3 linked regions of the Homo sapiens genome follow. Changing the gene in region 2 together with the main gene of any one other region gives a genetic interaction. Each region holds a gene or a part of one and is shown on either strand. Other genes may lie near its edges.

What was found.
Region 1: of SMAD3 (region 2) and STRAP, changing one suppresses a phenotype caused by changing the other (phenotypic suppression), as found in Homo sapiens cells (one study listed by BioGRID).
Region 3: of SMAD3 (region 2) and HIF1A, changing one enhances a phenotype caused by changing the other (phenotypic enhancement), as found in Homo sapiens cells (one study listed by BioGRID).

Annotation. Positions count from the first base shown.
Region 1 is NC_000012.12:15,898,608-15,904,833, reverse strand, and holds the end of STRAP (serine-threonine kinase receptor-associated protein), read right to left. Parts: intron 4,931-6,226; coding exon 4,781-4,930; intron 3,888-4,780; coding exon 3,822-3,887; intron 1,918-3,821; coding exon 1,856-1,917; 3' UTR 1,356-1,855; downstream 1-1,355. UniProt on the Homo sapiens protein: The SMN complex catalyzes the assembly of small nuclear ribonucleoproteins (snRNPs), the building blocks of the spliceosome, and thereby plays an important role in the splicing of cellular pre-mRNAs.
Region 2 is NC_000015.10:67,059,954-67,068,601, reverse strand, and holds the start of SMAD3 (mothers against decapentaplegic homolog 3), read right to left. Parts: upstream 3,001-8,648; 5' UTR 2,448-3,000; coding exon 2,242-2,447; intron 1-2,241. UniProt on the Homo sapiens protein: Receptor-regulated SMAD (R-SMAD) that is an intracellular signal transducer and transcriptional modulator activated by TGF-beta (transforming growth factor) and activin type 1 receptor kinases.
Region 3 is NC_000014.9:61,733,044-61,741,677, reverse strand, and holds part of HIF1A (hypoxia-inducible factor 1-alpha), read right to left. Parts: intron 7,541-8,634; coding exon 7,393-7,540; intron 4,790-7,392; coding exon 4,569-4,789; intron 3,592-4,568; coding exon 3,305-3,591; intron 1,174-3,304; coding exon 1,051-1,173; intron 924-1,050; coding exon 490-923; intron 1-489.

The sequences.
Region 1 (6,226 bases), on a different chromosome or scaffold from region 2:
GATAGAGTCACATTCAGAATAAGAGATTAAAAAACGGACACTGCTGGACGTAAAGAAAGAGGAAGGAACCATGAGCCAGGGAATGCAGCTGGCTTCTAGAAGCTAGAAAAGGCAAGGGAACAGATTGTCCTGTAGAGCCTCTAGAAGGCTTGCAGCTCTGCTGACACCTTAATTTAAGCCCAGCAAGACCTACTGTGGACTTCTGACCTCCCTAACCGTAAGATAATAAATTTGTGTTGTCTTAAGGTACACATTTGTGGTCACTTGTTACAGCAGCAGCAGGAAACCAATACACAAAGGACTGTACCTGTACAGGGTCATTAGACTTTTATGAAACCTAAGGAGAAATTCCCTTGGTTCATAAATAACAAGCAACTTCATGATTCCAATCTGATGCGTACAGAACTTTATTGAGGGTAAATCAGACTCTGATTAGAGTCTGAGCAACTGCTGGTACAATGACAACACTGCTGCAATCCAGAGGTTCAGGCATGTAACAAGCTGACACAAAAATACTACCACTCTATGAAAGCCAATATGGATCACCAGTTGGCTCCCCTGTATTTCTCTCGGCCCTCACAGGTTGTCACAGCCTACAGTGCTTTCTTCTGGTTATCACAAATCCTCAAAAATTAATCTTATTCTTTGGTTGACTCATATTGCTTTTAAGAAAAGTTATCAAGGGTCACTCACAGGACTGATCAGGAGAAAAAGGAAGTTGCAGAGATGTTATTTATTCATCTGAAGTATTTCCAAATTACTCATTTAATATGCCCTCTTTGTTTTAAAAAATAAATTACAAGTCTAAACTCAGCTGATCCAATTTATTAGAAGGTTTTAGAAGGGCTTTCTGAATGCCACCCAAATTTAAAGAATGAGGTAAAATTCCATACTTCTTAAACCACTGCAGGACTATAGTAATCCCATTTTTATAAAATCCATTCTATCTATCTGTATATACATACAGAGATGCCCTAACATGCATTCATGGTCATTTGATTTTAATAGTTTTTTGAGGAGTGGTAGGATTTTAAGTGATCTTTCAGCTTACTGCTAAATTTCAGTTGATTTTTTTTTTCTTATAACTAGCATGTATTATTTAAATAATTGTTTAAAAAGGCATGTCAAGCACTTCTATCCAATCTGGGAATAGAGAAGGTAAATGAAACACTAGTAAAGGACATAAGAATTTCAAAAATTCAGGACAAGTAACTGAATCTCAATATTATAAAATAATGTTTACTACAGATTAATTGGCTTACCTTTTGCTATGGTTATGATACAGAAAAACCTTCTGGCTATTTCCACTTATAAAACTCACATTAGTAGTTTTTCCCCAAAAAAACCAAACATTGTTTTGTTTTAGAGGCATTTTATTTAGACAACTAAAAACAATTAGATGTTCAGAGGCAGTGTACAATGAACGAGAAATCAAACCAGTTACTTTATCATGTATTCCCTCTTCTTTACAACTGAAGCAAAAAAAGAAAAGGCATTCTGCTTTAAGATCAGAAAAAATCAGCCAATATAGTTTTCTTCTCCATATTAACATAAACAGCTACAAGAACCCTAATTGTAATAATAGAAATTGGATGTTGGCTTGTATATATTCATTAAAAAGATAACAGGCCACTGTACTATAAGAGGATAACTCCACCTCCCTTCATCTGACACTTGAGTTTTCACTTACAGGTAACACCAAGTTAGTTAGTTGTTCCAGCACTGGAGCTAATTCATTTTCCTCATTATTTACTGCTGTTTCTGCCTTAAGCAGACAGTAACTCTGGAAGGCTGATGCTTTTCTCTGCTTGCTTGTTTTAGTCAGTTGTATACTAACTGCACATATGATTGACGCTCAGGCCTTAACATCAGGAGCTGAAGGAAAGATGCAATCTGAATTCTCTGAAGCAATTTCTTCTATAAGTAAAAAAAAAAAAAAAAAAAAAAAGTCACATTAGTCAACTTAATGAAAGAAAGAAGCAAATCTACATTTCTGTGTAATGAAGGAATGAAAAAGTGTTTGTAAAGCATACTGTGGTAAGGGAAAGAAGAGAGCAACTGCACATGCCACTAACAACTAGACTCATGTCATTGAAAAGGCAAAGAAGAAAGAGTTCATGTGTTTTATCCACTAGATTCTCTTACACCATAACTCAACCTCCAAGGGTCCCTTTCTGGCCTAAATTTTCAAAGACTCCAGCTATATAACAAACCCGGAATTAAAGTCATGTCTTCGAAGGATCTGGCCCTCTCTTTTAGTGATTCAAATCCTAATATTTAGTGCTATTTAAAGCAAAACATTAACCATCAACATTGTTTTAGCAAGAAGGTGCTTAACAATAAAAAATTTAAGGAAAACTCTATTGGGTAAATGGTAAACACCTTCCCAACCTCCCCCAAAATCATCATACCCAGTTTCTCATGGCAGCAATCTGCATATTTCTTCCTCATGATACCCCCACTCATCAATCTCACAATTCTAACAAGTCTAACAAAAGACTCTCAACTCCATCTACCTTTTTCTGTTCTCATTGCAATACCCTTATTAAAAACTACATGATAGGCCGGGTGCAGTGGCTCACGCCTGTAATCCCAGCACTTTGGGAGGCCGAGGTGGGCAGATCATGAGGTCAGGAGTTCAAGACCAGCCTGATCAACATGGTGAAACCCCATCTCTACTAAAAATACAAAAATTAGCCAGGCGTGGTGGTGCACCTGTAATCCCAACTACCCAGGAGGCTTACGCAGGAGAATTGCTTGAAACCAGAGGCGGAGGCTGCAGTGAGTCGAGATCATGCCACTGCACTCCAGCCTGGGCAACAGAGCAAGACTCCATCTCAAAACAAAACAAAACCTACATGATCACTCATCTAGACTACAATGCCCCCTAACTGGTTTATGTTCACTCTTGTTCCCAGTCCAATTCTTTGTACGTGCAACAGCCAAGGCAACCTTTTTTTTTTTTTTTTTTTTGAGACAGAGTCTCTCTCTGACACCCAAGCTGGAGTGCAGTGGCGCAATCTCGGCTCGCTGCAACCTCTACCTCCTGGGTTCAAGCTACTCTCCTGCTTCAGCCTCCTAAATAGCTGGGATTACAGGTATCTGCCACCATGACCGGCTAATTTTTGTATTTTTAGTAGAGACAGGGTTTCACCATGTTGGCCAGGTTGGTCTTGAACTACCAAGGCAATCTTTTAAAGTCCTCTTCTTAAAATTCAAAGGTTTCTCATTGCTCTTAGTATAAAACTCTCCAAGTCCTAATACAGCAAATGAGGCCCTCAGATGATCTAGCTTCTCCAGCTTCACTTTGCCTTTGCTCTTTAACCTGGAGGCATGGAGAAGTTCTTTTAGTTCCTCATATGCTATGCTCCTTTTTGGTTCTGAACTTTTAGTTAACATAGTTTTCCTGCTATGAACTTTTCCATCCTGTCCCTACCAACACCCCCTCTCATGACCTCACCTAAATCATTTCTGCTCATCCTTAGTTCCCAGTTTAAATGTCACTTCTCTAGGAAGCTTTTTTTAATCCCCCTTACAATAATTTGTGTTTTGGCATGTCTCCTAAGTTAGACTCTAGCTCTGAAAGAGTAACCACATCGGTTGTGTCCATACTACATCTCTGTGCCTATTACTACTATGCAGTAGGTATTTAAATATTTAGCTTATAAATATGTATATATACATGCATAAATATTTAAAGTTTCCATTATTTAAATATGTTCATATTTAATAAATTTCTTCTGCCAATGAGTAAAACTTCTGTTACAGTTCAATTTTAAATCCCCCAAGACTCTTACAAAAGTCAATTCCATAGCATTTACCTAGCTCCTCTTCTGTTGTCTCTGGAAAACCAATCTTTGGCTTTGCCAGCTCACCACTATCTTCTTCTGTAAAAAGAAAAGCAATGACGATTATATGACTTACACTATTAAAGTAATTTCCAGTGTTCAATAAGCAAGAAGAGCAACATAAGACTATTCCAGGAAAATGGCTACAAAATATAATAAAAACAACTCCTTTTTAAATAACTGTGATTCTAAAAATAGTATGTCTTTCTTTAAAATTACTTTTAGGTTCATACTGCAACTACTTAGGGATTAGTAACTAGGTATTTTTTATTAAGAACATGTCTATCTTTATTGGTGTGGATCAGTGAGTAATACTATTCAGAGATTAGATACATTTACTTGTAAATTCTTTATATTGCCTTCCAGCAAATTTTGAATTAGATCTATTCCAGCCACAAAATGTGCTAGTATAAAAATTTAGGAACAGACTAGATTGTACAACAAATTTTTCTTTTTTTTTTTTTTGAGACTGAGTCACTCTTGCCCAGGCTGGAGTGCAGTGGCGTGATCTCAGCTCAATGCATGGCTCCTGGGTTCATGCAATTCTCGTGCCTCAGCCTCCTGAGTAGCTGGGATTACAGGCATGTACCACCACACCTGGCTAATTTTTGTATTTTTAGTAGAGATGGGGTTTCACCATGTTGGCCAGGCTGGTCTCGAACTCCTGACCCTGTGATCCGCCCGCCTCAGCCTCCCAAAGTGCTGGGATTACAGGCGTGAGCCACCGTGCCCAGCCATACCAAAAAAAATTTAAACAAAGGAACATGACCCTTTCTCTGGCCAATTTATAATCCTGGGCTTCTCGCTGCTTAAACCATAATATATAATTTAAAATTTATAGAAAACAGGAACCCTGAAATAAAATTAATGATTAAAAATGACATAAAATCATGCATTTTAAAAATTTTATTATTCTGAATAAAAATTCTTACCAGGAAGCACACATTTCCAAAGGCCATACGTTTTTCCTACCACAGTTTGCCATAGTCTCAATGTTCCATCTTCTGAACCACTGGCATAGAGTTCTCCATCAGGACTAAATCTCACACAGTGAATAGGACCAAAGTGTCCCTTGTAGGATTCTGAAAAAGAAGAGGGCTATTAGATAATTTTAACTATTAGGTTAAATATTGATATGCTAAAAAAAAAAAATACTGTCTGTGTTACTGGGGAGATGGAAAATTCTTAAGGCAAACATTAAAACCTGTACTTAATTAATTTCTCATCACAAAAGTGGTATATCATTGACCCTTTCTCTGTAAGATTATTCCTTTCCAAATCTAGCACACATTCTAGTTTCAAACTGTCCCTCTAAAAAAAGCAAATGAGGCTTCATGTCTCATTAAGGATGGAGAAAAAGAGGTAAATGAAAACCCCATTAATTCTATAGAAAGTAGATTTAAAGTCTTACCAGTTCAACCTCCAATTTCCATATCCTAAAACTCACTGCCTATTTCTCAGGGAATCAATTTTTATTATGACTATAGAGAGCCACCAGGTGGAGCTCTTTTACACACTTTGCCTCTTAATTTCCTACAGTCCACTAATTATTCTGTCACACAGAAAGGTGAGATATAGATCAACAATGATCCATAAATATTTTAATCCATGGAACCTAATGAGAAAATGTATAGATTAGGAGCACTGTTATATTCAAGTAGTACCTTTAAGTATGAACCTTTCTCATTTACTTTCTAATGCCTCATCACCTTATTAGTTCTCAAAGCCCTTTACTAGACCAATGTTCCTATTCTGTCTCCCATCTGTGTCCCACCAGAGAATAGAAAAGTTGTAAGAGTACAAAGAACACAAGGTTTTGGAAAGAGAAAGGCTAGGCAGATCTGGTATTCACTGTGACTTCAGATCTTGGGCAAATAATTCAGTTCTCTCAATCTTGAAAAAGAATAAAATATGAAACCAAAAACATTCTAAAACTTTGAAAACTAGCATTAAATAAAAGTAACAGAAAAGAATATCTTATTTATAAATCACTTGTATTCAAGTAATAAAAACTGAACCATAAGCAATTAAAATAGATTCTACATGGTCCATCACCAAGGTTCCATTTGTGCAACCCAGATGCATCAATGTTCCCCAAGAAACAAAACGTAAAATTGTCTTTTGTTCTTTGGGTGTAATCTAGCAAGCTTCGTTCTTTGGTAAAGCAGGGCAGCTAGAAACAGACAAGAACAAGAAGAGACAGCTTATAGATAAAAATATATATTTATAAAAACTAAACATATTTTTGACCTAAAAGCAAAAACTATTTGGAAAGGCTAAAAGTAGATACTGAGAACCACATGTAACTATGTGAAATACCTGGTCCATCAGATAAATATACATTAACTTCAAATTAATCCCCATGCCTTTCCCTTTCC
Region 2 (8,648 bases):
AAGATGCCTCAGTCCTAACAAAGTCACGAGAAGGCCACAGGGCAGGTTGGCTTGAACTCTCAGAATCATCCAAAGCGTTCACACGTCTTAGGCTTCCAAAGTCTCAGCAGGACTTTGGAAGAGGAAAAGGCAGGCCAAAGGTATGGCCCCACAGAGGACAAACTCCTACCAAGGCAAGGGAAAGCAAGGCCTCTCTGCCAAGCTATCACCAGCCCAAAGATTAAAGAAGCAACCGCACATACAAAGATCCACAGGGCCCTCCCCAAGCTAACACAGCTTTAGCATTCAGCAAAGAATGTATTCAGGATCTTCAAAGTATAAAGCAGCATGGGGCAGCAGAAAGAGCACATTCAGGCAGAACCCCATGTCTATGACTCAAGCCTTTTCACCTCTCTCTTTTAAGGTTTCCTCTGCTTTAAAAATGTGATAATCTTAAGCCTAACAACCTTATCTACTTTCCATGGCTGGTTGCTTGCTTGCTTTCTGTCTTTTTTTGAGGACCTCAGAAAACCATGTGAAAGTGCTTTGTAAACTGTGAAACACTTTTCACAGCTGCCTGTTTTACAATTGATACCACTTTTTTTCTTCTGTTTCAATACATAAAGCACTTGTCTTCAATGCACCCAGGCAGATAAGGAGAAGGTAGGTTTGGCAGACCCCTCCCCAGAAAGAGAAGTAGCATACTCACCCACTCTACCCTAGCCACCCCCACGGAAGGAATACAGAAGAATTAACAACCAGAGCTGGAACCAAATCCCAGGTCTCTCTGACCATCACATCACACCACCTCCTCTGAAGTCAATTCTGGCTCCCGATCACACGCCCAGAGACTTCCCCAGACAGCACACCGCCTTCCCTCCCCCTTTATTGACTGGATCCACCCAGTTAAAAAAAATTTAAGTCCGCACTCCCACCATATGTGGCATTTATTTCCAGGGGAGGCCTGCCCTCGGTTCCCGTGGACAGATGTTGCTTTGTGCCTGCCTGACTCGCCTGGCAGCCCCTGTACAACTGCCCCAAGCAGGTGGCCAAGGATGGAGTCCACCCTGGCCCAGGAGCAGGGATGACAATCCCTTTGCGGCTGACAGTCCCTGGTGCTTTCTACTCATTCCTCGGCAGCCTGGGACCCCCAAAAGAGCCAGCCCCCAACACACACGCTCTCTCCCTTGGTTCAGCATCAAAGGAGGCTGAGAGGTAGAGACAGGAAGCCAAGGTACCCGCACCCCCAGTTCCCAGCCAGGCACATCTAAGCTAAGGAAGGCCCTGGGGGAGTGAAGTCACTGACCCCTTCTATCAGCCATCTGTGGGCTCCCGCCCGACCTAGCTAGCGCGCAACGGGAAGGATAAAGGAGATCCAGACAGATGGCAGCGCGCTTTGGGAAGGAAGGCTCTACAGGAATGCGAGGGCCGATGCGAGGCCCACTTTGGGGTGTGTTTTGTTATCTGCCCGGCTGCAGCCTGCCCCTCTCCCTCGTTCTGCACGGTTTCAAAATCTCTTGGACCAAAAGAAGGGCAAAAGAGTCGGGATGGGGGGGTGGGAGGTGGGAGAAGACCCTATTTTCCGCCACTTGTCTCTCCCATTTGGAAGTCAGAGCATTGCACTGCAACCAAAGTGCGTGCATGCTCAGGGGGCGGGAGACTGGCACAACCGAGTCTAAAAATACTCGATAAAAATGCTAATCCCGAAGGCAAAGAAAGAACGAAGAAGGAATCTGTCAATCACTAGGCTCCCGCTCCTCACCCACAGCCCCAGCTGTACGGACCGCATTCCTGTAGAGGAAAGTGGGGAGACCCGACTGAAGAAAAGAAACGCAAAGACACCACCACCTCCACGAGCGCGGGCCGCGGGGGCGGGAGGCGGCGGCGGAGGAGGGGCTCCGGCCCGCGGAGCCGAACAAAGCGGGCCTCAACTTCCAGCCCCAGCTCCCCGGAGTGGGGGCGGCCGAGTCCCGCAGCAACCCGCTCTCCCCTCCCGGAGGTGGAAAGGGAATGTGAGGTGTGGAAGCCAGAGTGCCGCGTGGAAGCCTCGGGCTCTGATCTTTGCAAATCAGAGATGGTTTTGTTTGGGGTCCCCCCACCCCCTTCCTGCCCGCGCTCTCCCACTCTCACACACACGCACCCACACAGTCTCACTCCCTCCCTCTCTCTCCCTCTTCCCATCTCCAGCCCCACTGGGTCGGCCCCGCAGTGCCAGGGGGCTGGGCCGGCGTGACCCCGGGTCCCCCCCGGGCGGGCCCCCACCTGGGGATGGTGATGCACTTGGTGTTGACGTTCTGCGTGGTGATGGCCTTCTCCAGCTCGTCCAGCTGCCCCGTCTTCTTGAGTTTCTTGACCAGGCTCTTGACCGCCTTCTCGCACCATTTCTCCTCCTGCCCGTTCTGCTCGCCCTTCTTCCAGCCCAGCAGGCGCTTCACGATCGGGGGAGTGAAAGGCAGGATGGACGACATGGCTGGGGAGGGCGCGCGGGCGGCGAGGAGCGCCCCCGGCGGGGCTGGGCTCGACGGGACGCCGGGGGCGCAGAGGGGAGCTCGGCCGGGGCCTGCCGCGGTCGCCCAAACTTCGCCTCAACTCTCGGCGAAGTTGCCGGGGCGCCGGGCCGGGCCGCGGCGCTGCAGCCTGCGGGGCTCGGCGCGCGGCCCTGCGCCCGGAGCGGCTCCCACGGCGAAGAGAAGAGCGGCCGGGCGGGCGGACGGCAGCAGTGCAGGGTCGGGAAGGCCCCGAACGCGGGGCGGAGGCGGCGGCCGCGAGACTCCAAGTGGCAGCAGAAGTTTGGGTTTCCGCACGGGGTAGCTGTTTGGGTGCCGCCTCCGGGAAGGAAAGTCCAACCCCCGGCCAAACTTCGCTCGCCTCGCTAGCTTTGATGCGCAGATCCCTCCGCCTCTGCGGCCTCACCGCCCCGCCACCCTCCTCCTCCCGGCTCGCCGCTCGCTCGCTCGCTGGCTGGGCCGGCCCGGGGCGTGCGCCGCGCTCCCGCTCCCGCCCGCTCCCAGTCTGTGTTTCATGCAAATCCGCGTGCAGCCTCCTTTCCAAGTGCTGTCACCGCCCCCTCGCCGCCGGGGCTCCCCGCCTCCTCCCCCGCGCCCCGCCACCTCCTCCCGCGGGCGCCCTGCCCGCCCCCTGCTCCGGGGAGGGCGCCCGGCCGGCCACCACCCCGCGCCCAGCACGCCCACGTGGGCGACCCGGGCGGCGGCAGTCCTGGCTGGAGCGCGCGGGACCCTGCGCGGCCCCGACCTGAAGTCGGGCGGGCGCGGGGAGGAAGTCCTGGGAAACACGGCGAGAGGGGCCTCGGGCGGGAGGGCTGAGCGCGGCCCGTGGCGTCCGCTCTCGGAGTCCACACTCGGGCGGCTCGGTTGGAGTTGCGGGCCGGAGAGGGTTGGACTCGCAGCAAGTAAGCGTCGTCCGGACGCGAGTGCACCCTGGAGAGGACCCGAGCCCGAGAGGGGGCGCGCGGAAGGCCCGGGCCCAGGAAGTTGGGGCCCGCACTTGGCCTCGCGCTTGCTGATCCCCGTCAAGGCCCTTGGCCGGCGCCGGCGCCCCTGGGCTGTTTTTATTCTCTAGTCGGTGAGATCACACCGGCCGAGAGCCTCGGGAACGTGTGCGGAGGAGGAGGGGGTGAGAAGTGGGTCCTCAGAAGTGGAGAGCTGGGGACACCAGTGACAACCTGGACAATGGCTGGAGCCAGGGGTCTCTTGAGCCTTGTGAACCGAGTGCCCGGCAGAAAATGAGCCTCAAGGACATCTGTTGAGTTCTTGAAGGAATGAATGGAGGGGCTTTCGAATTTATCTTTGAAAGAAATTTACATAACAGGGTGTTTGTTGCTGGATCTCCTGATAGAGAAGGATCGGAAATTTGATAATTGCCAATAAATGGAAGAGAGTTTTGTTTCCAAAGCAATGAACTCACAAAAAAGTGGGGCAAGACAGGAGTTTTCGGAGAGTTTGTGTATTCAAAAAAAGCAAAACAACAACAAACCAATTGGCACATTGGGGAGCTCCGCGGCTTTTCTCCCCACCAAAAGAATTCAGGGGCGTCTGCCCGCAGGGCCCTCGGCGGTTTTCAGGAGCTACTCCAGGCCCCTCGGCCTTTCTCTTGCTGCCTCCCGCAGCCGACTAGCCGGTGTCTAAGCCCTTTGTTTGTTTTTAACAGCAGGAATCTCCCACCCCCACCCCTGCTTTGTTAAAAAAAAAAAGTTATCTGGAACCCTCAAGTGGGTGGGGAGTTACAAAGCCCTGTGAGGTGTGGCGGAATCCACAGTCAGCCCAGAAGCGGCAGGGGCCCTTGCCTTGCTCCGGAGAACCGCCTCCCACAAGCCAATCCGCAGCTGCTGCTGCAGAAGTGCGCTGTGCTCCTCACCCTCCTCTCTTCCTAAATACCCGCCTGAAAAGGAGAATACGTGAAAGCCAACTGAGGCTTGACAACCTGGCTTCCGTTCCTTGCTGGTCCTCCTGTTAACGCGCTGCCGCTGTGGTCTTAGGTTTCACTCTCCTCTTCCCGTCCGTCAAGAGAGACAAGGATGACACAATCCACATTTATTGATTGCTTTCTTCATTCCGGGTAGTCCGCCTGCTGCCCTTTGATTCAGTCTTAACAGTGGTTGGTGAGGTAGATGTTCCTGTGCCTCACGTTTACGGAGGCACAGAGAGATTACATTACTTACTCAGGGTTCCAAGTGGCAGAGCTGGAATTTGAACCCAATACTTTGTTGAAGCCTCAGTCTCCGATCTTGAGACTGCACCCAGCTGCCTGGGTCACGGAAGGCAAAGATGACATCATTGATCGAGCTCTTTGCAAAACAGTTCTCTACACGGGCACACTGTTGTAACACTGCAAGGATTATTTGCTCACCTGTAAAATGGGGCTAGAGGTAGCTTCCCTCGCGATCTCCTAGGGTGGCTGTGGGAAGCTCATGTGAAAAGGTTTGCATTGCTAATGCCATGAAAAGTGGTGGAGGGAGGTCAAATAAGTTTAACACACATTGACGGAGCAGCTCTGAGTTGCAGCCCTCCTATTCAGTTCCTGAACTTCCAAAATAAAAGACTAAGGTTTTCAAGGCGTTCACAGCCTAGAGAAGCATCAAAGGGTGGGGATGAGGATGATGTGACTGAGTGGGCAAAGATGGGCAGGGGCCTTGCAGTCATCATCGTCCAGTAAAGTGTTAATCTTAACCTGAACAAGTCCAACCATTGAGAGGTAGCCAAAGAAAGTAAGAGGGGCTCAGGATCCATCAGTGACTGGCCTGGCTTCCAATCCCGGCTCTTTCTCTTCTTCCCCTTGGGCAGCGTCCGTTCTCTCCGCTGTAAGAATGGAGCAAGCGGTTCTCACTGTGCAGAGTGGTGGATCCAGAAAGAGCATTGTAACTGTCCTCCTGTAGTTCAAGTCCTTTATGTTACAGAGAGAGCAATGTCTGCTGAAGGAGAGTGATTTGCACTGTAGAGGAAGAGCGTCAGAGAGATTTGAGGATTACATGTAGTAGAAGGACCTGACAGGTACTTCACCCTGTAAAATCATGGTATGGGAAGGGGCCCTCATTCAGCCCTCTCATTTTCCTGAGGGGAGGAAATAACTAGGCAGCCAGCTAGTTAGTGTGGCAGAACCATGCTTCCCTGCTGGCATCCGTGTGACAAGAACAGCTGTGCATGCAGAAAAATAGTGCTGGACCCACCTACAAGTCTAATAAGTGCCATTTCTGGGCTAGTTCTTTCTCCTCAGGCCTGTTTCTCCAAGAGAAGTCCCTCCACTGGGGGACTAAGTCCAGTTTCAGAAAGCTCTGAGGAGGGCTGAGGAACTGATTCTTCCAGTGCTGAGAAGACCCTGCATGTTCTCTTGATCTTGACTTTGGGCAGTGAATGGGTGGGCTGCTCTGGATGGGTACAACTCTGTTCTGGCACCTGGTCTTTTGGGGCCCAGCCATACCTGCTTTTGCAGAGGTTGTCCTTGGGAGGGAAACATTAGCCCAGTTAATTTTTCACCATGGTAAGTGCAAAGTTCAGGAGAGGTGGGATGGAAGTGGAGACAGCAACTGTTTCCCTGGGAATAGTCCATCCTATGAACAGTTCACCTCGTGAATAGACACATCAGAGGGTTTTCGTGTATTTGGAGTGGCTCCCAGGTAGGCCAGCCACTCCAAATACACGAAAGAAACAAACACCTGACTTCAATTCTGATTATTTTCCCATTAGCTTAAGGGTATTTAATCAACAAGTAGTGAATCTAGAAAAAGCATTAAAATCATCTTCATCTTACACAGACAGAAAGTGATGTCTGTAAGGGAAGGTGATTTGCACTGTGAAGATAAGTAGCCAAATCAGGACTAGAACTTTTATCAGAGTGCCCTCACCTAAGAGAGAGCCTCTGTCTACAGTCAGATCTCTACCTATAGCTCTTTGTAACACCTTACACGTGTGAGCTCTTCTGTGGCACCAGAATGACCTGGGTTAAACTTCTACCTCTTCCACTTCCGGCTGTGTGACTCTGGGCACGTTCCTTAACTCTGTGTGTGTCAGTTTTCTCATCCATAAAATGTGATAATTACAACACCTTCTTAGGATTGCTGTATGGAATCAGATTAAATCATATAGAAAGCTTGGTACAAGCACATAGTAGGTTCTCAATATACATGGATGTGATTCATGCATACTATAAAGTGCTATGCAAAAGTGAGAAGCAATGAATTCCATGTACATAAAACAAATGTATAGATTTTAAACACAGTTCCAACAGAAAATAGTAAGACACAGAGGGAAAGGAATAGCATAATGCTACTATGTAAAACAAATTACATATACACAAAATAATTATATACATTTTGAAAGAAGTTATACAAATAAAAAGATATACATTGAACCACTTCACATCCATTAGGATGGCTATTATCTTTTTTTCTTTGTTTTTGAGATGGAGTTTCGCTCTTGTTGCCCAGGCTGGAGTGCAATGGTGCCATCTTGGCTCACTGCAACCTCCGCCTCCCGGGTTCAAGCAATTCTCCTGCCTCAACCGCCTGAGTAGCTGAGATTACAGGCATGTGCCACCCACGCCTGGCTAATTTTGTATTTTTAGTAGAGACGGGATTTATCCATGTTGGTCAGGCTGGTCTCAAACTCCTGATCTCAGCTGATTCCTCCCACCTTGGCATCCCAAAGTGCTGGGATTACAGGCGTGAGCCACCGCGCCTGGCCAGCTATTCGCTTTTAAAAAACAGAAAATAACATGTTGGAAAGGATGTGAAGAAATTAGAATCCTTGCACATTGCTGGTGAAGATGTGAAGTAGTGCTGCCTCTGAGGAAAATGCTGTGGTGTATGTATGGCAGTTCCTCAAAAAACTGAGCAGAATTACCATATGATCCGGTCATTCTGTTTCTGGGGATATACCCAAAAGAATTGAAAGCAGGGACTACGAGTATTTCCACACCCATGTCCGTAGCAGCCTTATTCACAACAGTCAAAAGGTAGAAGTAACTCAAGTGTCCATCAATGGATGGGTGGAAAAACAAGATGTATTGTAGTCACACAATGGAATTTTTAAATTTTATTTATTTATTTATTTAGAGACAGAGTTTCGCTCTTATTGCCCTGGCTGGAGTGCAGTGGCGCGATCTTGGCTCACTGCAACCTCCACCTCCCAGGTTCAAGTGATTCTCCTGCCTCATCCTCCCTCGTAGCTGGGATTACAGGTATGTGCCACCACACCCAGCTAATTTTGTATTTTTAGTAGAGATGGGGTTTCACCATGTTGGCCAGGGTGGTCTTGAACTCCTGACCTCAGGTGATCTGCCCGCCTCGGCCTCCCAAAGTGCTGGGATTACAGGCATGAGCCGCTGTTCCTGGCCCATACAATGGAATATTATTTAGCTTTAAAAGGAAGGAAATGCTGACACATGATACATTGTGGATGAACCTTGAGAATATTATGCTAAGTGAAATAAACCAGCCACAGAGGAACAAAAATTGTGTGATTCCACTTACAGAAGTACCTAGCATAGTTAAATTCTTAGAGACAGGAAGGAGATAGTGGTTGCCAAGGGCCAAAGGGAGAGGGAATGGAGAATTATTGTTTACTGGATATGGAGTTTCAGGTGAAGAAGATGAAAAAACTCTGGAGATGGATGGTGGAGTTGGTTGTACAACAATGTGAATGCAGTCAGTGCCATGGAACTGTACACTTAAAATGGTTAAAATAGTCAATTTTGTTATGTACATTTTACCATAATAAAAGAGTAGGAATAGGCCAGGTGCGGTAGCTCATGCCTGTAATCCTAGCACTTTGGGAGGCCAAGGCGGGTAGATCACCTGAGGTCAGAAGTTCGAAACCATCCTGGCCAACATGGTGAAACCTTGTCTCTACTAAAAATACAAAAATTAGCCAGGCACGATGGCAGGAGCCTGTAATACCAGCTACTTGGGAGTCTGAGGCAGGAGGGTCACTTGAACCCAGGAGGCAGAGGTTGCAGTGAGCAGAGATCACGCCGCTGCACTCCAACCTGGTGACAGAGCGAGACTCCATCTCTAAATAAATAAATAAAGTGGGAATAAAATGGTAAATATTGAACAGAGTAGAATAGATGTTTGAGTGTGGGTGTATGGGAGAATAGAGGATAAGGCTAAAGAGGGAAAATAAATAAGTGCATTCAGGTGTGTATGACTGATGTGT
Region 3 (8,634 bases), on a different chromosome or scaffold from region 2:
AAAAAATAGGAGCGGGCATGGTGGCTCACACCTGTAATCCCAGCTCTTTCGGAGGCTGAGGCAGGCGGATCACCTGAAGTCGGGAGTTTGAGACCAGCCTGACCAACGTGGAGAAACCCTGTCTCTATGAAAAATACCAAAAAAATCAGCCGGGCGTGGTGGTGCATGCCTGTAATCCCAGCTACTCGGGAGGCTGAGGCAGGAGAATCTCTTGCACCCAGGAGGCAGAGGTTGCCGTGAGCTGAGATGGTGCCATGCCATTGCACTCCAGCCTGGGCGACAAAGCGAGACTCTGTCTCAAAAAAAAAAAAAAGAAAGAAAAAGAAAAAATATATGAGGTTAATTTAGAAAGTTTTTTGAGTTCTCAAGAATTTGCGTTAGGGCATATATATCAGAAAGTTTGCTATAAGTTTAAAAATCATGTACTATCACATACATTTATCTCAAAAATAATAAAAGAACTATAACTTGAATGTTACATATAAATACCTTTGACTCAAAGCGACAGATAACACGTTAGGGCTTCTTGGATGAGATTTTTCTGTCTGTTCTATGACTCCTTTTCCTGCTCTGTTTGGTGAGGCTGTCCGACTTTGAGTATCTCTATATGGTGATGATGTGGCACTAGTAGTTTCTTTATGTATGTGGGTAGGAGATGGAGATGCAATCAATATTTTAATGTCTTCCATACGGTCTTTTGTCACTGTTTTTAATTCATCAGTGGTGGCAGTGGTAGTGGTGGCATTAGCAGTAGGTTCTTGTATTTGAGTCTGCTGGAATACTGTAACTGTGCTTTGAGGACTTGCGCTTTCAGGGCTTGCGGAACTGCTTTCTAATGGTGACAACTGATCGAAGGAACGTAACTGGAAGTCATCATCCATTGGGATATAGGGAGCTAACATCTCCAAGTCTAAATCTGTGTCCTTTAAAACAGCAAATACATGAGTTTTTACAATGGCCACACCTTATAAATAAAAAACAAGTGAAACTCAAAGTCACTTCAGACTAAAAATTAATGAAATTTAATATAAAACAAATAAGTTCATATACCTGAGTAGAAAATGGGTTCTTTGCTTCTGTGTCTTCAGCAAAAAGTTTTTCTACCAATTCCAACTTGAATTCATTGACCATATCACTATCCACATAAAAACAATATTCACTGGGACTATTAGGCTGTAAAAAGAAATATGTTTACTATTTCCTGAAGAAGCTTCCATATACTTTGCTAGTTGTCAGAATTTTCAAACTAGATCTCAGAAAAACCAGAAAACACACAACCAAGTCCATCGTGTTTATCAAATTTTATTTAACTAGGCCGGGCTCAGTGGCTCACGCCTGTAATCCCAGCACTTTGGGAAGCCAAGGTGGAGGGATAATGAGGTCAAGAGATCGAGACCATCCTGGCCAACATGGTGAAACCTCGTCTCTACTAAAAATACAAAAATTAGCTAGGCATGGTGGCAAACGCCTGTAATCCCAGCTACTCAGGAGGCTGAGGCAGGAGAATCACTTGAACCTGGGAGGCAGAGGTTGCAGTGAGCCAAGATCATGCCACTGCACTCCAGCCTGGCGACAGAGTGAGACTCCATGTCAAAAAAAAAAAAAAAAAAAAAAATTTGTGAAAATAGTGACATTTTGAAGCTTATACTGGTAACTAATTTTGCCAATATATATATTTCTGACTATGTAATATAACATCATTTACAAAATTGAGATGAAAAGAAACACCTTATTCTAAAGAATAAAACCTATTTGGTAATTCACATCCCACAATGGTACCTAATTGACCAATTAACTAGATGCTACATTCACTGGAATTTACCTTTGAACTGAGAAGGCACACTCCTGTGGTGACTGAGCTACCTAAAAATCTCACTGTTACTGTCGGGGGTGGGAGTAGAAACCTAAGTTATTTTACCTGCATATACCTGAACGAATGTACATTATTACTATTTTAAGAGTTCTGGGCAAGAAGTTTAACAAAAAACTATAGCTGTGTATTCTAAACAAGAAATTTTGCTTTCCTCATTCTAACGTTTTTGTTAGATTTACTTTTGTTAGATAAAAACCAAGATGAATCAAACATTTTTTTTTCTGGGTAAATTAAGCAACCAGAGCATAGGATATATATTCATTCAACACAAGGCTGTGAGATGTCAAATCCCCTACTCTTAGCTTGTCAGTTTTATTCAACAAATACCTAATGTAGAATTATTTACCACTTATTAAAGCTTATTTATGCCTCATTTATCAAGTTATAATGTTCAGATCTAAGTTGCCCTACTCCTGAGCATATTTTTAGATGTAGGAAGCCCTAAAATGGAATCATTCTAGATTTAGAAATAGAGCCCTGTGTGATATCTCTAAGTCTTGGCCAGCCTAGCCTTTAAAGATTATTTTTGTGTTCATAGGACAATTAATATCAAGACAGATCCAGAATAAAAAAGACCAGTTACTAAGTATTTATTTTATGTAACACTTGTTATTTTCATATTATACTTACCCAAAATTTCAAAATAGTGATGGAAATTAGACTAAATTGGGCAAAGAATTTATAAGGTCCTTTCCCATTTAAACCCTCGTAAGTCTATTGCTACCAGACAGTTCTCCAACTCAAAGGGGTAATGGGCCAGGCATGGTAGCTCACGCCTGTAATCCTAGTACTTTGGGAGGCCAAGGCAGGAGGATCGCTTGAGCCCAGGAGTTTAAAACCAGCCTGAGCAACATAGTGAGAACCCCAACTCCACACACACACACAAAAAAAGGTTAAAAAATTAGCCAGGCATGGTGATGCAGGCCTGTAGTCCCAGCTACTTGGGAGGCTGAGGTGGGAGAATCATTTGAGCCTGGGAGGTTGAGGCTGTGATTGCACCACTGCACTCCAGCCTGGGTGATAGTGAGACTCTTTCTCAAAACAAAACAAAACACAATAAAACAAACTAAAAGGGGTAACAGGTATAGGCTGTAGCTACCTTGAGCACACTTAGTACTATTCTCTTTAAATGTCCAAATTCAAGATGTTTTTGTCCTACTGATATAAATAATAGAGAAACAATGTACGTTTCACCTTTTGGTTTATATTAAGCTAGTTTCTTCCCATGTTCCTGACTATCTTTGAGCCTAAAACATGTGCTCAGGTCTAGGTTAGGCAGTAGCTCTTGCAATAATTTTAAAGTGCTAAAATTCAAACACACACACAAATGTAATTTGTGGTTCAAATAAGTGTTTGAATCAAACTTATAAATACATTCTTGAATGTTAAAATCTGAAAGTTGTCCCTTTCTGATTATATCATGACACCTACCTCAGGTGAACTTTGTCTAGTGCTTCCATCGGAAGGACTAGGTGTCTGATCCTGAATCTGGGGCATGGTAAAAGAAAGTTCCAGTGACTCTGGATTTGGTTCTAATTTTAATGCAACTTCTTGATTGAGTGCAGGGTCAGCACTACTTCGAAGTGGCTTTGGCGTTTCAGCGGTGGGTAATGGAGACATTGCCAAATTTATATTCTGTAATTTTTCGTTGGGTGAGGGGAGCATTACATCATTATATAATGGTACTTCCTCAAGTTGCTGGTCATCAGTTTCTGTGTCTGTGGGGAAAAAATATGAGTCAATCTAAAGTATAGAAGGATTTTTTTTTTTTTTTACCCAAGACAGAGTCTTGCTCTGTTGCCCAGGCTGGAGTGCAATGGCGCAATCTTGGCTCACTGCAACCTCTGCCTCCCAGGTTCAAGCAATTCCCCTGCCTCAGCCTCCCAAGTAGCTGGGATTACAGGCGCACACCACCACGCCCAGCTAACTTTTGTATTTTTGGTAGAGACGGGGTTTCACCATGGTGGCCAGGCTGGTCTCGAACTCCTAACCTCAAGTGATCCACCCGCCTCGGCCTCCCAAAGTGCTGGGATTACAGGCGTGAGCCACTGCGCCCGGCCACAAGGATTTTCACATATAAAAAATTTATGTTCTTTTTCACAAAAGGTTTGTCTAATTCATCAAACAACAAAATGTCACCAAATTTTCCTTCATCAGAAAGTTTACATACAATAGTATAGTATAACCATAAGTCTGAGTTACCTTTACAATCCACTATTGATACCGCGTCTTAATCTCTATGGCATAAAAGACAAAAGGCAATACCAACCTTTTTATACATTAAAATGTTCTCTACTTTAAAATTGCAGTTTTCATCTTCAATGCTTGATGTTATAGTATGACTACTTTTTTATCCTTTAATGCAACAATGCCTACTTCCATATAACTCTGCTAAACTGTGGAGAAAATCTGACAGCAGGATACAGAAATAGAGTAGCCAGGAAAAATTTATGTGGGAAGAAGAAATACCTTAAGGACACTTTGAAGCACAATTTCCAACAGTATAAAAAAGCAAGAATGGTAAGAAATTACGGGGGCAAAAATATTTAAGCAAATACATTTAAGAAAACTATAAACATATATTAGCTTGTAATGTCCAAATGATTACCAACAAAAACCGTAAAGTAATGTTTAGTTGAAATGGGGCTTGTAGCAACAGACACAATTTAGGGGATTAACAAAAATAACTACTCACCGTTGCTGCCAAAATCTAAAGATATGATTGTGTCTCCAGCGGCTGGGGCCAGCAAAGTTAAAGCATCAGGTTCCTTCTTAAGTTTGTCAAAGAGGCTACTTGTATCTTCTGATTCAACTTTGGTGAATAGCTGAGTCATTTTCATATCTGAAGATTCAACCGGTTTAAGGACACATTCTGTTTGTTGAAGGGAGAAAATCAAGTCGTGCTGAATAATACCACTGTCAAAACAAGAGAAATTGGTAATTCACAAATGAGCACTTGATACAGTGAGGGGAAGGGAGACTGTGAAATGGTCTCTTAAAAAATTCTGCTTTATGGACAGGAACATTTCAAGATTTCTTGAGATGCATGATCACTCATGCGTACTGTGTCACATTTAGGGTTTTAAAATGCTAATACAAAATAAAGACCCAATAAAATCCACAGTATGCAACCATAAAAAAGAATGAAATAATGTCCTTTGCAGCAACATGGATGCATCCAGAGACCATTATCCTAAGTGAGATAACCCAGGAACAGAAAACCAAATGCTGCATGTTCTCACTTGTAAGTGGGAGCTAAACACTGGGTTACTTGTGGACATAAAGATGGCATCAATAGACACTGAGGACTACTAGGGGAGAGGGGCAAGGGTTGAACAACTGTTGGGTATTATGCTCACTACCTGGGTGACAGGATCAATTGTACCCCAAACCTCAGCATCACATGATATACCCATGTAACAAACCTATGCATGTATCCCCTGAATCAAAAATAAAAGTTGAAATTAAAAAAAAAATCCCCAGTACAAGATAATTTGACTAATTTCAGTTAAGAATTTCAGATATCCAGGCTGGGCGTGGTGGCTCATGCCTGTAATCCCAGGACTTTGGGAGGCTGAGGCGGGTGGATCGCTTGAGCCTGGGAGTTCAAGAGCCTGGCCAACATGGCAAAACCCTGTCTCTACTAAAAATACAAAAAATTAGCCCGGTGTGGTGGTGCACACCTGTAGTCCCAGCTACTTGGGAGGCTGAGGCATGAGAATCACTTGAGCTCGGGAAATGGAGTGAGCCAAGATCACGCCACTGCACTCCAGCCTGGGTGACAGTGAGACTCCATCTCAAAAAAAAAAAAGAAAAAAAGAATTTCAGATATCCTTTGAGAAGAGTAGTAATGGCAAGGCAATTTGTAGTCAAGTACATGAAAGACACCAACAAATCTTCAGAATTGTTGTGCTGACACACATTATGAAATTGGCACAAAAGAACTCTTTGGCATCAATATGTGAGGCATGATCTAAGGATAGTCCTAAAGATACACAGATAAATGATTAAGATCTTTCTAAGAGAGGGGCCATATTTTCTTTGGTGGTAAGAATATAAGGTGATACCACCTACAGGATACGGCTGAAGAGGGATGATGAGCAATAGTTTATCTTCACGTTTGGCTTAAATGTAAATTATTCCTTTAATTAACGTATTAAATGTTCACTATCTGAAATGAACTGATAATGCAAAGATTAAAATAGCCAACCCTTGACCTTAAGAAATTTATAACCCATTGTGAAAGTAGATATGTAAACAATTAAAATACACTGTGATAACTGCTAAAATAGAGAAGGCTTGCTTCACTGAGAAGCTAACAAGCTGATACTTGGGATCAAGTGGCATTTGCTAGGCAGACTGGGGTGTGAGGAAGAGAAAGACATTCCAAGTGGAAGATTCTTACATAATGGTAAAGTCACAAAAGAACTCTGTGGCACTAATATTAAAACATTAAAGGATGGTGTCAGAAGTAGCAAAAATAAAAACTGCCCAAAGTCTTCCTAAGAGGAGTGACCCTAGATTTTAAAGGGAAGGCTAAATCTCTAATGCGTGAGTATGATGGTAAACAAGGATGCTGTACACCTAGGCAAGTGTTTATCTTGGAAATGATAAAAAGATCGCTAAAATTCTAAGGAAAATAAGATGATGACATATCCACACTAGAAAGCTTAGCCTGGTAGTAATGGGCAAGATGGACTAGAATGTGGTAATAATGTGGACAGGTAGACTAGATGGGGCAGGAGTCTAGTAAAATAGATCAAATGAAAAATTAAATTTTGATGTACATAATATTCACAAGCCAAAGAGCTAAGTGAAGAGTTCATGAATATACAAGAGCCATGTATTACATCATATAGCTTATTAATCTCATAGAATTTCTTTTCTTTTTTAAATTATACTTTAAGTTCTAGGGTGCATGTGCACAACGTGCAGGTTTGTTACATATGTATACATGTGCCATGTTGGTGTGCTACATCCATTAACTCATCATTCACATTAAGTATATCTCCTAATGCTATCCCTCCCCCCTCCCTAATCTCATAGAATTTCATTTAATTTTCATTATAACCTTCTGAAGGATTATCTACATAGATGAAATTCAGAAAAATGAAGAGACTTCCCCAAGGTCAGGGAGCTAATGAGTGGTAGAGCTATGATACAAATCTAGGCCAGGATTCTTCCTACAAAAAGAACACAGCTGTCTTGAGATAGTATATGCCGATATCTGTATAATTAGACCAAACCAATCAATGGATCTGGTATTTTTTTCATGGTCTTTTTAAAAATAGGAGTGAAGGTATGGGGATAGACAACTACTGACAGTGTTTAGCAGCATCACTGTGGAATAGCTGGACTGGAAACCTAGGTCAGAGTATAGAAAATAATAATTTGGTAGCGATGTAAAAGAATTAAAATTTAGTTAATATTTATTATCTTATCTTCCTATAAATGAACAGAGTATCCAAAAAGAATTACTATTTGTTCCCCAAAAATGTTTATTTCTCAAACTTACTTACCTCACAACGTAATTCACACATACAATGCACTGTGGTTGAGAATTCTTGGTGTTATATATGACAGTTGCTTGAGTTTCAACCCAGACATATCCACCTCTTTTGGCAAGCATCCTGTACTGTCCTGTGGTGACTTGTCCTTTAGTAAACACTAGGGGGGAAAAGAAAAAGAATCATGCAGAGAAAATATTTTAACTTTGAATTTTCAATTAAATGAACAGATGCTGAATGTTCATCATTGTTTTGGAAAACAAATGTTTATTTAGTGGAATCAGTTGTAACTGCTTACATTCTGACAGTGCGTCCCAGAATAGCTGAAAATGTACCCATTTCCTTTTTCAAACCCCCTAAATAAAACTCCTTTGCTGCCAGTGAGCTAAGTGAAGAGTTCATGAATATACAATCTTCAGTAACTAAAATTCCTTTAATGACTTAGGTTGGTGTCAGATTAGAGAATAATCAATAGCCTTTTTCAAGAAAATGGTGCCACAATAACTTCCTTAAATTCTGACTATGGTTTCCAGAGAACCAAAGATGCTTTAAAAAGCTATATGTAGCATATTTAAATATAAATTGATACCACATTGTAAGTCTTTTGGCAATTTAAATTAAATACTGATTTGGGAGAAAGTACTAAATAAATGCTAATGATGGTATTATTTTGAGGATTGGGGTGTCCTGACTGCAGACTTGGATTTACTCTTGAGTTCAAGGCTGATCAGTCACACAAACTCAGTGATATTCAGGTATCCTCAAGCACAGTGGGAAGTCATGCATAGGTACAGATTAAACAGGTGAGATAGTCCAAAGTTTAACTTATCTTGGGGATCTTAACATTCATTTGAGTAAAATTCAGAATCAAATCTTATGTCAAAGGTACTTGTTTTGGGTGACTATAGTAAAAAATAATTTAATTGTACATTTTAAAGAAACTAAAAGAGGCCGGGTGCCAAGGCAGGTGGATAACCTGAGGTCAGGAGTTCGAGACCAGCCTGGCCAACATGGCAAAACCCTGTCTATACTAAAAATACAAAAATTAGCCAGGCATGGTGGTACATGCTTATAATCCCAGCTACTTGGGAGGATGAGGCAGGAGAATCTCTTGAACCCGGTAGGCGGGGGTTGCAGTGAGCTGAGATTGCTCCACTGCACTCCAGCCTGGGCGAGAGTGAGATCCTGTCTCAAAAGAAAAAAATAAAATAAAATAAAATAAAAATAACCAAAAGAGTATAACTGGATTGTTTG